Homo sapiens: one gene and its partner. The protein of the gene in region 1 interacts with the protein of each later gene in a pairwise test. Each region holds a gene or a part of one and is shown on either strand. Other genes may lie near its edges.

Region 1 (7,023 bases):
AGCCTGGCCAACATGGTGAAACGTCTCAACTAAAATACAAAAATTATCCGGGCGTGGTGGCAGGCGCCTGTAATCCCAGCTACTCTGGAGGCTGAGGCAGGAGAATCGCTTGAGCCCGGGAGGCAGAGGTTGCAGTGAGCCCAGATCGTGCCACTGCACTCCAGCCTGGGAGACAAGAGCAAGACTTCATCTCAAAAAAAATAAAAATTAAAAAAAGTTCTAGGCTCGGCAATAAGACAAAAAAAGCTGACAGCATGCCATTTCCAAGTCATCTGGGAGTCTTGTCTAACAGACCCACCCAAAGTTTGCTTCATATTCCAAGGCAGCAGTCCTCAACCTTTTTGGCACCAAAAACTGGTTTCGTAGAAGATAATTTTTCCATGGATGGGAGTGGGCAGTGCCTTAGATTTTCATAAGGAGTGTACAACCTAGATCTCTCGCACGTGCAGTTCACAATAGGGTTCACGTTCCTGTGAGAGTCTAGAGCCACCGCTGATCTGACAGGAGGCGGGGCTCAGGCAGTAATGCTTGCTCACCAGCTGTGCAACCCCATGCCTAACAGACTACAAACCGGGGGTTGGGGACCCTATTCTAAGGGACTGTACCTGTATTTGATTTACTATTCTTTTTTTTTTTTTTTTTTTTTGAGACAGAGTCTTGCTCTGTCGCCCAGGCTAAAGTGCAGTGGCGCGATCTCGGCTCACTGCAACTTCTGCCTCCTGGGTTCAAGCGATTCTCCTGCCTCAGCCTCCTGAGGAGCTGGGATTACAGGCATGCGCCACCATGCCCGGCTAATTTTTGTATTTTTAGTAGAGACGGGGTTTCACCATGTTGGCCAGGCTGGTCTCGAACTCCTGACCTCGTGATCCGCCTGCCTCGGCTTCCCAAAGTGCTGGGATTACAGGCGTCAGCCACTACACCCGGTCTGTTATTCATTATTGATTAGAGTCTAGACTTCGACAAGGTAAATGGTAACCCCAGGAAGTTTGGTTGCAAATGATTTCTCTCTGGTAGAAAAGGTAACCTCAAAGGTTACAGTTGTATTGTCCTGTAGGTCTTTAACCAGTTTTGTATCTAACCTGGCAAATTTTCTCCAGCCCGTCTTTCCTGACTAAACCTATCAACTTCTGTTCATCAAATTCTCCTTTTTTTTTTTTTTAATGGAGTCTTGTTCTGTCGCCCAGGCTGGAGTGCAGTGGCACAATCTCGGCTTGCTGCAAACTCCACCTCCTGGGTTCAAGTTATTCTCCTGCCTCAGCTTCCCAAGTAGCTGGGATTACAGGCATGAGCCACCACACCCAGCTAATTTTTTGTATTCTTAGTAAAGACAAGGTTTCACCATTGTTAGCCAAGCTGGTCTCGAACTCCTGACCTCAGGCACCCGCCACCACGCCCAGCTAATTTTTGTATTTTTAGTAGAGTCGGGGTTTCACCATGTTGGCCAGGATGGTCTCAATCTCTTGACCTCGTGATCCACCCACCTCAGCCTCCCAAAGTGCTGGGATTACAGGCGTGAGCCACTGCACCCGGCCCAAATTCTCCTTTGAAACAGCTGGTTCCTTCATTCATGACTTAAATAAATCTTTGACCTGTGCTTATTATATATGCGTCAGAGAATCAGATTTGTTTTTTGGGGTTTTTTAAGAGACAAGGTCTCCCTCTGTCATCCAGGCCGGAGTGCAGCGGCGTTGCCATAGCTCACTGCAGCCTCCAACTCCTGGGCTCAAGTGATCTTCCCACCTCAGCCTCCCAAAGTGCTAGGACTACAGACATGAGCCACCACACCTGGCCAAATGTTTTTCTTTTTTTCCCATTTAATTGCACTTTGACAATAAGTGTTTGTGAATGTTATTTTATATATTGTATATGACCAAACCATATATATTTATTATTATTTGTGTTATTATATATTATAAATATTATAAAATTATAATATTTATATATTCAAAGGAAACAAGTATGGTGCTGGGCAGTATGTATACCTCGCAACCATTTGTGATTTTTAAAACAATGCAGATGGCCAGGTGCTGTGTCTCACACCTATAATCTCAGCACTTTGGGAGGTCAAGGTGGGCAGATTGCTTGAGCCCAGGAGTTCGAGACCAGCCTGGGTAACATGGCAAAACGCTGTCTCCACAAAAAAAAAAATACAAAAATTGGTCAGGCATGGTGGTCCGCACCTGTAGTCTCAGCTACTCAGGAGGCTGAGGCAGGAGGATCACTGGAGCCCAGGATTTGGAGACTGCAGTGAGCTATGAGCATGCCACCGCACACCAGCCTAGGCAATAGAGGAAGACCTTGTCTCAATAATAACAATAAATAGGCCAGGTGCAGTTGCTCACGCCTGTAATGCCAGCACTTTGGGAGGCCGAGGCAGATGGATCACCTGAGGTCAAGAGTTCAAGACCAGCCTGGCCAACATGGCAAAACCCTGTCTCTACTAAAAATACAAAATTAGGCAGGCGTGGTGGTGGGCGCCTGTAATCCCAGCTACTCCAGAGGCTGAGGCAGGAGAATCACTTGAACCCGGGAGGCAGAGGTTGCAGTGAGCCGAGATCACGCCATTGCACTCCAGCCTGGGCAACAAGAGCGAAACTCCATCTCAAAAAAAGAGTCATAATAATAAAGTAAATTTAAAAATAAAAATACAATAAAATAAAAATACAAAAATTAGCCAGGCATGGTGGTGCATGCCTGTAATCCCAGCTACTTGGGAAGCGGAGGCAGGAGACCCTCTGGAACCTGGGAGGTGGAGGTTGCAGTGAGCCGAGATTATGCCAGTGCACTCCAGCCTGGGAGGCAGAGTGAGACTCCATCTCAAAAATAATAAGTATTATAATTATGAATTAATAAACAAAATGAGGCATTGATTTTACTCATGTGTAGAATATACACTTGTATATGCGTAGAAAATTCCCAGGAAGGAAGCAAGCTACTGGCACCAGTGACTGCCTCTGGGAAGGAATGCTAAAGCCATATCTTGTCTCTATAGTTTGGATTACTTTTTAATTGTGTGTGTGTGTGTGTGTGTGTGTGTGTGTGTGTGTGTGTGTGTGTGTTCTTGTCAAAAGCAAAAACAACAATAAAATCTTCAAAAAAGCAAACAGAACATGAAAACCCTCTGAGGGTTCCTCATTGCCCTCATTAGGATGGACTCAGAAAACCTCTCACCCTCCACAGCTATTTGCATAAGCCGTTTCCTGGGCTAGGAACGCCTCTCCCCCACCCCAAAGCCCCTCTCACCAGCTAACCCCTTCTCCTCCACGTCTCAGCTCAGCTACTTTCCCCAGAGAAAGCAACCTACGCCCCTAAACTGGATTTTACACACACACACACACGCTCCCTACCTCCTTTTCTTCAAGACACAGCTTGTATTAAACGACATATTTATATGTTTGTTTATCTATCTCTCTCCCTCAAATTCTATCAGTTACCTGAGTTCAGGGACTGGTAATATCTCGGTTCCTGCCATGTCCCCAGCACCCCCAATAAATATTTGAAACATAAGAAAAAGAATTAAAAATGGATGGTGTTTATTGTGAGCTCCCACTCTTCCGTTCCTCTCACTGTCCTTTCCTTCTCATCCCTCACATGAGGAGGGGGACAGATTCTGTTTATTTTAAGTTGAGATTCTACTGTTCATTCAGTAAATATTTTTTGAATGCCTTCCCTGCTCTAGGAACTAGGAATATAGGAAGAAATAAGACCGCAGCTTCTCTGTTCTCATAGAATTGAACTTCTTGGTTCCGTTCCTAGAGAAACCAATAACAAACAAGGAAAAAAAAATTTTTTTTTTTTGAGATGAAGTCTCACTCTTGTCCCCCAGGCTGGAGTGCAATGGCTTGATCTCGGCTCACTGCAGCCTCTGCCTCCCAGGGTCAAGTGATTCTCCTGCCTCAGCCTCCCAAGTAGCTGAGACTACAGGGGCCTGCCACCATACCTGGCTAATTTTTGTATTTTTAGTAGAGATGGGGTTTCACCATGTTGGCCAGGCTGGTCTCGAACTCCTGACCTCATGTGATCCACCCGCCTCGGCCTCCCAAAGTGCTGGGATTACAGGCGTGAGCCACCACGCCCTGCCTTTTTTTTTTTTTTTTTTTTTTTTTTTTTTTTTTTAATAAAGATGCCATGGCCAGGAGCAGGGGCTCTTGCCTGTAATCCCAACACTTTGGGAGGCTGAGTTATGAGGATCACTTGAGGTCAGGAGTTTGAGATCAGCCTGGCCAACATGGTGAAACCCCATCTCTACTAAAATACAAAAATTAGCCAGACATGATGATGGGTGCCTGTAATCCCAACTACTTGAGAATCGCTTGAACCCGGGAGGCGGAGGTTGCAGTGAGCTGAGATGGCACTACTGCACTCCAGCCTGGGCAACAGAGCAAGACTCTGTCAAAAAAAAAAAAAAAAAAAAAGCCTTCAGAAAGTTTCAAGAACTCCCAGGAAAATAAAACAGGTTGTTATGAGAGTGAAGGCATTTGGGGTGGGTGAGGCATCTAGGAATTTGTGTGGATCTGGAATAGAGATTTCCAGGCAAAAAAAAAAAATTAAAAAAACAGCAGGTGCAAAGGCTTGGAGGCTGGAATCTCACACCGTCACCCTGAGCAAGACAGGGTCTCCAACTTGGTCTTGTTGGAGAAGAAACAAGGCACCCTGTGTGACCATAGCAGATTGATCATGGAGAAAAGCAGAAAGAACAAGTAAAACCTGGTAGGAATGTCACGAGAAGGCTCAGTGCTGACAATAAAATCAAAAGCAGCTACATTAAATCCCCAAAATCAAACTGCCTCCAAGGTAACTCCCAATAATCCTTACCCCCTGATATTCATGCCCTGTGTAGTCCCTACTAACAAGCTGGCTGACGTGTGTAACCAACAGGATATTGCAGAAATGACAGAGCGTGGCTTCCAAGGCTAGCTCTAAGGAAAGCCAGCCGCCATGTTGTGAGGATGCTCAAGCCATCCCACGGAGAGGTCTATGTGGCAAAGAAATGAGGCCTCCTGCCAACAGCTATGAGAGTAAGCTACCATGGAGGTTAGTTCCCCAGCCTCAGCCAAGCCATTAAGTGACTTCAGTCCTGGCCGACATCTGACCACAACCACATGGAACACCCTGAGCCGGAATAATCCAGTTAAGCCACTCTTGGATTCCTGTCCCTTGGAAACTATAAGAGATCAGAAATGTTTATTGTTTGAAGCTGCTCAATTTTAGGATAAGTGTTACCCAGCAATAGTTAACTAATACACAAGCCTTCTCTATACAGGTAGTCATTAAATCCCCAGCACAACCTTGGGAGGTAGAGACTGTATTACTATGATGCTTACATTTTGGTTTTGGTTTTGGTCTTAGGGACAGCATGTCACTCTGTCACCCAGGCTGGAGTGCAGTGGCACAATCATAGCTCACTGCAGCCTCGACCTCCTGAGCTCAAGCCATCCTCCCACCTCAGCCTCCCAAGTAGCTGGGACTACAGGTGTGCCACAACGCCTAGCTAATTTTTTAAATTTTTGTGTAGAGAGAGGTGTCTTGCCATGTTGCCCAGGCTGGTCTTGAACTCCTGGCCTGAGCAGATCCTCCTGCCTCAGCCTCCCAAATTGCTGAGATTACAGGCATGAGACACTGCTTTTGCCTGATGCTTACAGTTTAGAGAACATCTTCAGGCTCGAAAGTGTGACTTACCCGGGATCACACACAGGCTGGCAGTGGAGAATCCAGGATTTCAAGGCTAGAGTAATTCCTGAAGGTCCTATTCCCCCAGCCCCCTAACCTGGGTTCCCTCTGTCCTCTCCCACTTCTCCAAAAACCAATAATGTTAAATATGAACCTCCAGAGAGTGGAGACAAGGAAACTGGTGAACCTGCCCCACTGGGGACCATTTGCAGGGCCTGGAACAAAAGCACACACTTTCATTGTCTTCGCCGTCAAATCTGAGTCAGATTGCCTGGCTAAGCAGTTAACCTTCCAGGAAAGCCAAGAAAGCTCACATTTACGATCACCACTTTCTGGGTTTTTGTTTTTGTTGTTGTTGTTATTTTGAGACGGAGTCTCTGTCACCCATGCTGGAGTGCAGTGGCGCAATCTTGGCTCACTGCAACCTCCACCTCCCGGATTCAAGCGATTCTTCTGCCTCAGCCTCCCAACCTGGGACAACAGGCATGTGCCATCATGCCTGGCTAATTTTTTTTTTGTATTTTTAGTAGAGATTGGGTTTCTCCATGTTGGCCAGGCTGGTCTCAAACTTCTGACCTCAGGTGATCCGCCCACCTCGGCCTCCCTAAGTGCTGGAATCACAGGCGTGGGCCACAGTGCCTGGCCAGGATCATCCCTTTTAACGGATAGGGGAGAGGAGGCTCAGCAGGAGGAAAGTGTGGGCCCCAGATCAAACAGCTGATAATAATGATAAAGTGCTGCCTAGACAAGATGTCAGCAGAGAATAATAACAATAATAATATTGAACATCCACTGAAATCTTTCCCTGGGTTTGGCAGCAACCTGAGGCAGCTGATGACAGAAGGGCCTCCAGTGAGGGCTGGGCGTGGTGGCACGTACCTGTAATCCCAGCACTCTGGGAGGCTGAGGTGGGAAGATCGCTTGAGCCCAGGAGTTGGAGGCTGCAGTGAGCTATGATCCAGCCACTGCACTCCAGCCTGGGCAACAGAGCAAGATCCTCTCTCAAAACAAAACAAAACAGGCCAGGCCAGTGGCTCAGCACTTTGGGAGGCTGAAGCAGGCGGATCACTTGAGGTCAGGAGTTCAAGGCCAGCCTGGCCAACGTGGTGAAACCCCGTCTACTAAAAATACAAAAATTAGCCGGGCATGGTGTTGTCCCAGCTTCTGGGGAGGCTGAGGTACAAAAATCTCTTGAACTCGGGAGGCGGAGGCTGCAGTGAGCTGAGATTGCACCACTGCATTCCAACCTGGGCGACAGAGCACGACTCCATCCCAAAAAAAAAAAAAAAAAATCAATCAATCGAAAGAGGACCTGTCTCCTGGGGAGGAAAAAAAAAAAAGAATGTCCAGGAA
Region 2 (7,919 bases), on another chromosome or scaffold:
TTTCTTTAAAAATAGCAGTATATGCATCATAGGGTAGTTGAGAGAATTAAATCACAGAATATGTCTAAAGCACTATGTAAAATGCCATGACACGTGGTTAAGTGTTCATTAAATGTTAGTGATGATGACAAATATACAGCAGTTAAGAGAACCTGTATTTAGTATGTATTAAATTGCCTGGGTACATTCAACTTCACCACAAATGTTAGTGGTCCTTAAAGCCACCACTAACAAATTTCTAAGGCAATATATAAGCAACTTAAATATTTTAATAATGCTTGCTCCTCATTTTTACTTACATAAATGGGCTAAAAAGAGATGTATTTAGATGCAGAACAAAGAGTCGCCCGTTGGTATCCACTGGGGACTGGTTCCAGGACCCTCCTCAGATACCAAAATCTGCGCATGCGGCCCTATGGAACCTGCATATATGAAGTCAGCCCTCCACATCCTCAGGTTTCATATCCTGCAAATACTGAATCTTGATACACGTTTGATTGTGGATGCAGAATCTATGGGGACAGAGGGCCAACTACTGAAAAAAATTCACATGAGTAGACCCATGCAGTTCAAACTTGTGTTGTTCATGTGTCAACTGTATACGTTATCTCTACATAAGGACTACAATGTACTTTACTATTCAGATTCTTTTTTAAAAAACAAACAATTAACTGAAAAATTGTGGTTAATGTTTAAGTGAAATAAATTGAAGTATAATTCAAAAAAAATTTCACTTAATATTTCACTTTACCTCTAGGCAAAGTTATGGATCCCCAGTAACGGATAATCTATTATTTATGTGTAAGTCTGTAAATATTCATGGAAATATACCCTTTTCAGATTTATGCTCTCCATTACCTTTGTGTACTAAGCACATTTTCCCTAAACTGAAATATCTCTAATACATCTCCTGGCCTGAGATTACTCAATAGCAATAGAACTGAGGCATCGAGACACTTAACTGCCATACTAGAAAAATGCAACGTTACCTGGAAAACTAGTCTTCATTATATCAATTCCAACTTGCAGCTCAGGTTCAGCAGCAAGCACTGCATAGTCTCCTTGATGAGAGATGTTAAAGTTGAAATTCGGGTAAGGATTCGATGAGTCCTTTGCAAGAACTGGTTTTCCTTTTGCAGTTCTTTGCAAACGAATATGATTCCAAGGGATATTCAATTTCTCTGCAACTAATTTCCTTATCATCAGACGACCAGCCTGTTAAGTACATAAAACATTTGGTATGTACTGATGTCTACTAAAGATACAAGCACACTGTATGCAATAGTACTTTTTTTTGGTTTCTAAAATTTTCATTTTTAAAACTTTTCAAAATACTTAAGTATTAAACACACGTTAATTAAGACTTAAGCAATGCTTAAGTAGATAAAAAGTTAAAGCCCGCCTTAGCAATTCCCTCTCCTTTGCTAGTGACCAAAGTTAACAGCTGGCATCCTGTCAGTCTTTTCTGTATTTAAATATATGTGCATTTACATGTTTTTGCTAACTCTACATATAAACACAAACATGAGATTATACTTATGCAGTATTCTACCACATATAAGCTTTAAATTTATAAGTATTGGGAAGTATTTTATGTCTGTACACACACGTCTGGTCCATGCAGTTTTAACTGTAGCATATTTCATAATATTATTTCCCCTTTATTGGACATTTTAGGCTGGCTCTAGACTTGCTGTCAAAAACAACTCTGCAGTGAGCAACCCTACTGTACCTACATCTGTGCATATGTATTTCTAGATCCCATATATTGATCACCCAGCTTCAACAATTAGCAAGGCATGACCTATCTTGTTCTGCTCTCTCCCACCTCCAATTATTATTTTTTAAATAATTACTAAAAACACACACACAAAAAAACAAGAATATAAGATGACAAAGTATATATTTTTAAAAATATCTTTCAGGTTTTTTTCTTCTTCAATTCTAACACTGACTTTTAAAAACTGCAGGCTTTTAAATGTAGCTTATTTTACAATTCCTTACAAATGAGTAAAAAATTTTCACCAATGTGCCTTAAAAATTATCAACTAGTCTACATTTCAAACAGAAAGTGTTTCAATATGGGACATTTTTAAGAAAGGACTGTCTTTTAAATGATGGTAATTCACGGTTGTTTCAAATTGCACCATATTGTACAGATTACTTGTTTTGAAATCCAGTTTTCCATTTGTTGCTTCAAAATACATAGCTAAAATAAATAAATCTACGTAAAATACTGTTTCCCATGGCATCTAGTGAGGAAGGTATCCTCTCTGGCTTCAATTTCATTGGCTTCAATCCCGGGGAGCGCAGGGCTACAAACTAAATCATACTGTCAATAATTTCTAGGGCCTACCACGTGCAGGGAGTCCTTGGAGAATGATGGGATATTTAACAGGCAGAATAAGCATAGGCTATGAACGCACACAAACAAAAAAAAATAACATTTAAAGATAAAGACATAAAAACATTCATTACAGAAAAACCCAATTTTGTCGGCCTTCCCTACACTTATTTCATGGTTTAGGAGGGTCTCCATTTGAAATAACAAGGGGAAAGAGATAATGTTTACAGCCATCGCGGCCTCCAAGGCGGTTACAAAGGCCGTGGAAACCAGGCCGTGCGTCGCCCACAACTCCGCAGCGCCGGCTGCTGTCGCCCGGGCCGGCCACAGGCTCCACAGCGAGAGGGTCGCGGCCAGCGCGGGAGTGTCGGGTCTCCACAGCCCGGCCCGCCTCCCCCAAGATCTGCTTCCTAGGCTCTAAATACCAAAAAAGACCTGTAGTACCATGGCTGCCTTAGCGTCCCGGGCAAAGACGAACTGGCCAATGCGCTCCTTCTCCTCGGGCTGAATCGATCGCACTGCCAGCAGCCATTCGGCTCGGCTCGGCAGCCAAGTGCCGCAGGAAAAGGCCCAGCGCACGCCCTCCATGGATGGCACCAAGCAGAACCGTTTGGCAGGGAAAACCATACACTGAAAGCGGACCTCGCCGCTATCTCGGGCCTGATGGCGCGGACGCAAACGTGGCCCCACCCCCTTCTTCCCGGCGTCCGTGCGCAGGGGACGGGCCGTCGCTACGCAGACTGGCCCACCGACAGCCCTCCCAGCCCGCCCCCGACTCAGCCACCTCCTCTCGGAGAAAGCAGCTGGGGGCGGAGACGGAGATCAGCCCTGCGCTTTGCGGCATTGTATGACGTCAAGTAGGCGAGGCTTCGGAGGCGAGCGAAGGGCGGGACCAAGGCCAAGAGCCCGACAGTTACGCCACTCACACTTGCGGAAGAGTTAACGGGACAGCGGTGCAGGCCAATCGCAACCAGTCCTCTGGAGGCAGGGAGACTGGGGTGGAGACTTCGGAGACTGCAGTTGCAGGTGGGTGAGCTCCGGGGTCTGAGGGAGGAGTGGGATGGTAGCCCTTATTCTCAGGGTCTGAGTTGGCCCCTGTGACCCACAGAGAAGAGAATGTCCTTGGCTTCAGCTGCTTCGTGTACGGGGCACGAGAGGTTTCCATCTCTAGGAGGGGGTCTGCAGTGGTGCCCCCTGCAGTTGTGCAACGCATCAGCCCTGAGTTCCTTCTTTCCCTGCCCCCATCCGCATCAGCCTAAGACCCACCCTCACACAGTACGCTCCCGACCCTTAGCAGCAGCCTACCTGAAACCCTCCCTCCGAAGGCCGAGCAGAGGCACTATCCCCAGTGCGCAACACTGACCCCGCCTGGATCCGAGGCTGCCAGCGAGCAGCTGAGCTAATGCTGGCTGTTTATTTGGGGCGATGAAGCGACCCAGGTGCTGTTTTGCTATTGCCAAGCCTGGGCTAGAGCACTAGCGAGAAAACAGGATTCCATTGTTGAGGTATCAGTGTTTCCATCATGACAGAGGTCCTTGCTCTAACAGCAACAGAAACAAGTAAATAACTTTGCTCAGTTATTTTCTCAGACTTTGCGAAGGGTCATATTGATGTATGTCTGTTTCCTTAGTTGTTCCGTGTAGGCTGTTGTTGACTCTCGTATGAAAGCCCACGCGATCCAAGTGCCCTGCAGGTTTTGGTCCAGGGAAAAGTTGGTCTCTGCAGATGACTGTAAATGACTACCTGGAGGTCGATTAAAGTGCGGTACTGCGGGATTCAGCCGATTTCCTTCTTCCTCTGACTGCCCGGAAATATCAGCCAAAGGCCAGCGGTAGTAATTAACACAATTACCTGCCTATGATTTCTGTCCTATTTAAGATGGGTTCTATTATGTTTTTATCTATACTTGTCTTCATTAACTTTTCGTGATATCATAAGCCCCCCGAATCCCTCGAAAGTAGATGGGATTCTGAGCACACACACACACAAATTCAGATCCCCAAAGGACAGTAAAACGAATTATTGGCTTAATATATCATCTTAGCTAACCAAAAGCCTGTGTCAGCTGCCATGTTGAAAATCTGCTTACCAGCTGCAGGGAGCTTACAATCTGGTAAGGCAAATAAATCATACGCATAAAAAGTACAATAAGAGACAGTGTAAAGATACGTAAGTGATACTAATACCCATATCAGCAATGATCATAACTCACTTCTCCATTTTTAACTAAGAATCATATAACCTTTCCTTCTTGTCGTTTTAAACTGATTTTTATAACTTTGATACATTACGTTTCTGTTTCCAAAACACTTCTGTGTACGTTATTGCACATGTTCTGTGCACTAGTTATTACTGATGGAGACAATGAGCTCAGAAAGAGAATTTGTTTAAATTCAGGAATTCATATCCCATTATTTTACCATCGAGCAAGATCTCTGTGTATTAGATCTATGGAGCCTAATACACAGACAGTAACGTAGGGATTATTTGTACTTGGTCTAGAATCTAGAATATTCTCCCCTTCTCCCATTATCACATTCCTTGTTTCCTCTGTATCATTCAGGCCCAAATCTCATACCAAACAGAATGTCTCTGTTCACCTAGTCTAAAATAGCTTACTCTCTCCACTTCCAAACCTCAGCCCCAAACCTATCACCCTGTGAACATATTTTATAGGTTTGTTTAATCCCCTTCCCTGTGTGGTTTTACAAATTCTCCAGAGCTTAGCTTAAACCTTCTCTTAGGGCCTACTTCAGAGTACCTTTTTCCAAAACAGTATTGTTTATGTAATTCATTTGGCAGTTATTCTAGTATTGCCTTATGACGTCTCTCCTATTGTCCTGAATTATTTTCATGTGTGTTATCTTGCAAAATAGAATGTACAGTACTTGAGAGGGAATGTCATGTATACCTTTTACAAATAGTATACATGAGTAAATGTTATTAATGACTCCACAATAGATTTATTACTGTCAAGGGTAACACTGCTTTTTATATTCTATCTGCCTTTACTTCCCTCACTTTTATTAAGGAAATATAAATATGCAGTTCATAACTTGCTTAACTATATTAAATGAACCCAACAATTTTATTAAAATATTTTTTACTGCATTGGTCAGGGGAAGAAGAGGACTAAAGTAATAGGGGCTCACTCAGTCTGTAATGATCATCTTGCTTGGTGCTGATCTGTGGCTTCTTAGCAGGATTCTGAGGGACTCGTATTCTATTTCCAGCTCTACCACCAATTGTCTGTGTGACATTGGTCACACAGGATCCTATGTGTGACATAACCTCTTCCATGTATTAATTTCAATGGAAAGGCATCGGATGAGATCATCTCTAAGTCTAGGTGTTTTTTAGATATACTCACTAACTTTTTATTGGGTCACAAACTTTATTCTACCTCAAACCCTTCTTTTTTCCCCCAAGACTTATTTGAATAGCTCCATAATTCTACCAGTTTCTCAAGGAAGAAACCATGATGCTGCTCTTCTTTGACTCCCTATATCCAATCCATCTCCAAGTGTTTTTGGCTCTATTTCTAAAATACAGAAAAATCCATTTATTTCTCTTTATTCCCACTGTTAACAATCTAGTATAACCCACCATCATTTTTCATCTGAAATACTAATCAGTTTTCTAGCCTGCCTGAGAAAGGGGAGCACTCTCTTCCAATGTCTTCTATGCCATAAGCACAACTTGCTTTCAGAGCTAAATCTAGAAATCTATGCCCTTAATTCTTATGTTACATTGCCCTCTAATTAGACTGAGAAGGAGAGGCCAGCAAGGTAGGAAACCTGAAGAATGTTGTGGCACAGAAACTAAAAGACGAGTGTTTCAAGGACTAGTTAACAGTGTGAATTATCCTAAGAGGTGAAATAAGATGAGGAGAGAGAAGTGAGAATTTACCTTCAAGATGGTAGTGTGGTGACATTGACAAGGGCAGTTTTAATGGAGTAAAAGAAAGGAATTTTATTGTAGTGGGTTGAGACGATAACTGGAGGTGATGCTACCACAGAGTGTCCTTTAAAGAAGTTTTTCTGGATTTAGGAAGTAGAAAAATGGAATGGTAGCTAGAGGGAATAAAAGGTCAAAGGACAGATTTTTGTTTGATGTTTGTTTAAAGATGGAAGATACTAGAATTTGCATGCTAATGGAAAATGTCTAGTAGGGTGGGAGAAGCTCTTAATGTATGAGAAGGAAGGGGTATGTGTGTGGGGGGGGGTGTTCGGCATTCTAAAGTAGACTCCAGGGTAGAGGACCTTGTCTATGTTGTTTTTCGCTGTATTTCTAGTATCTAGAATAGTACCTGCCACAATATTTGTTACTCCATAAACTGTCTAATATTTGTTGAATAAATGAATGACTTGGACCCTACTTCTCTTACCTCCTTTCAATTCATTCTTGACATATTAGCTAGAAAAATATTTTTTAAAAAAATGATGTCATGTCACTGTCCAATTTAAAGTAATCAGTCGTTCCTATTTCACTTAGAATAAAATCCCAGCTCCTGTGACCCATAGCATCCTGACTGAGGTAGCAACTGCCTTCTGCAGCCCTATCTCCTAACCCTCTTCCTTTCATTAACTACTCCAGCCACACTGGCCGCCTTTAATTTCCTAAAACTGAAGGACTCCTTTACCCCTGTAGGGCTTTATATGTGATTTCTTCCACCAACCCCTTACCTTCTTATCATTCAATTCTCAAATGACACTTCAGAAAGGCTTTCCCTAATATTGTAGTGGCTGAAAGCAAGGGCTCTTGAGCCAAACTGAGTTCACATACCAACTCCCTGCTTACTTGCTATATGATCTTAGCCAAATTACTTAAATTATCAAAGCCTGTTTTCTCTGTTTGTAAAATGAAGATAAGTATCTCCTTTATCCAGTTTTTTTTTTGAAGATTAAAAGAGTATGTGTAAAACATATAGCATGGGACCAGGCATGGTGGCTCATGCCTGTAGTCAACAGCACTTTGGGAGGCTGAGGCATGAGGATCACTTAAGGCCAGGAGTTTGAGACCAACTTGGGTAACATAGTGAGATCCCATCTCTAAATTAAAAAAAAAAAAAAAAAAAAAGCTGAGTGTGCTAATGCACGCCTGTAAATCCCAGCTACTCAGGAGGATGAAGTGGGAGGACTGCTTGAGCCCAGGAGGTTGAGGCTTCAGTGAGCTGTGATCTTGCCACTGCAGTCCATCCTGGGTGACACAGCAAGACCCTGTCTCAAAAAAACAAACAAAAAATATAGTACAAAGCATGGCACATTATAAGCACTGTATAAGTGTTCCCTGTTACCCCTTTTGTTATTGTCTGAAATTGAATGCCCCATTGTTCATTTTTATTTCCACTTCCTACTTGTGTCTTCACAGTACTTATAAAAATGTATAATTATTTATTTGCCTACTTTATTTATTATGTCATTTTCACCAGATACTGGACAAGGAAAAAGCAGGGACCATGTCTGTCTTTTATTCTCTTTATATCTCTAGTGCCTAATTCGGTGCTTGTCATATACTTAGCATCTATAATAAATATTTACTAAAATAGGCCAGAAATCATGCTGTATATTGAAAC

Evidence for each region. The genes of interacting proteins can lie anywhere in the genome.
Region 2: the proteins of CRX (region 1) and AASDHPPT interact in binary tests that used the Homo sapiens proteins (3 or more experiments, as listed by UniProt).

Annotation. Positions count from the first base shown.
Region 1 is NC_000019.10:47,824,930-47,831,952, reverse strand, and holds part of CRX (cone-rod homeobox protein), read right to left. Parts: intron 1-7,023. UniProt on the Homo sapiens protein: Transcription factor that binds and transactivates the sequence 5'-TAATC[CA]-3' which is found upstream of several photoreceptor-specific genes, including the opsin genes.
Region 2 is NC_000011.10:106,072,763-106,080,681, reverse strand, and holds the start of AASDHPPT (L-aminoadipate-semialdehyde dehydrogenase-phosphopantetheinyl transferase), read right to left. Parts: upstream 3,021-7,919; 5' UTR 2,972-3,020; coding exon 2,789-2,971; intron 1,216-2,788; coding exon 990-1,215; intron 1-989. UniProt on the Homo sapiens protein: Catalyzes the post-translational modification of target proteins by phosphopantetheine.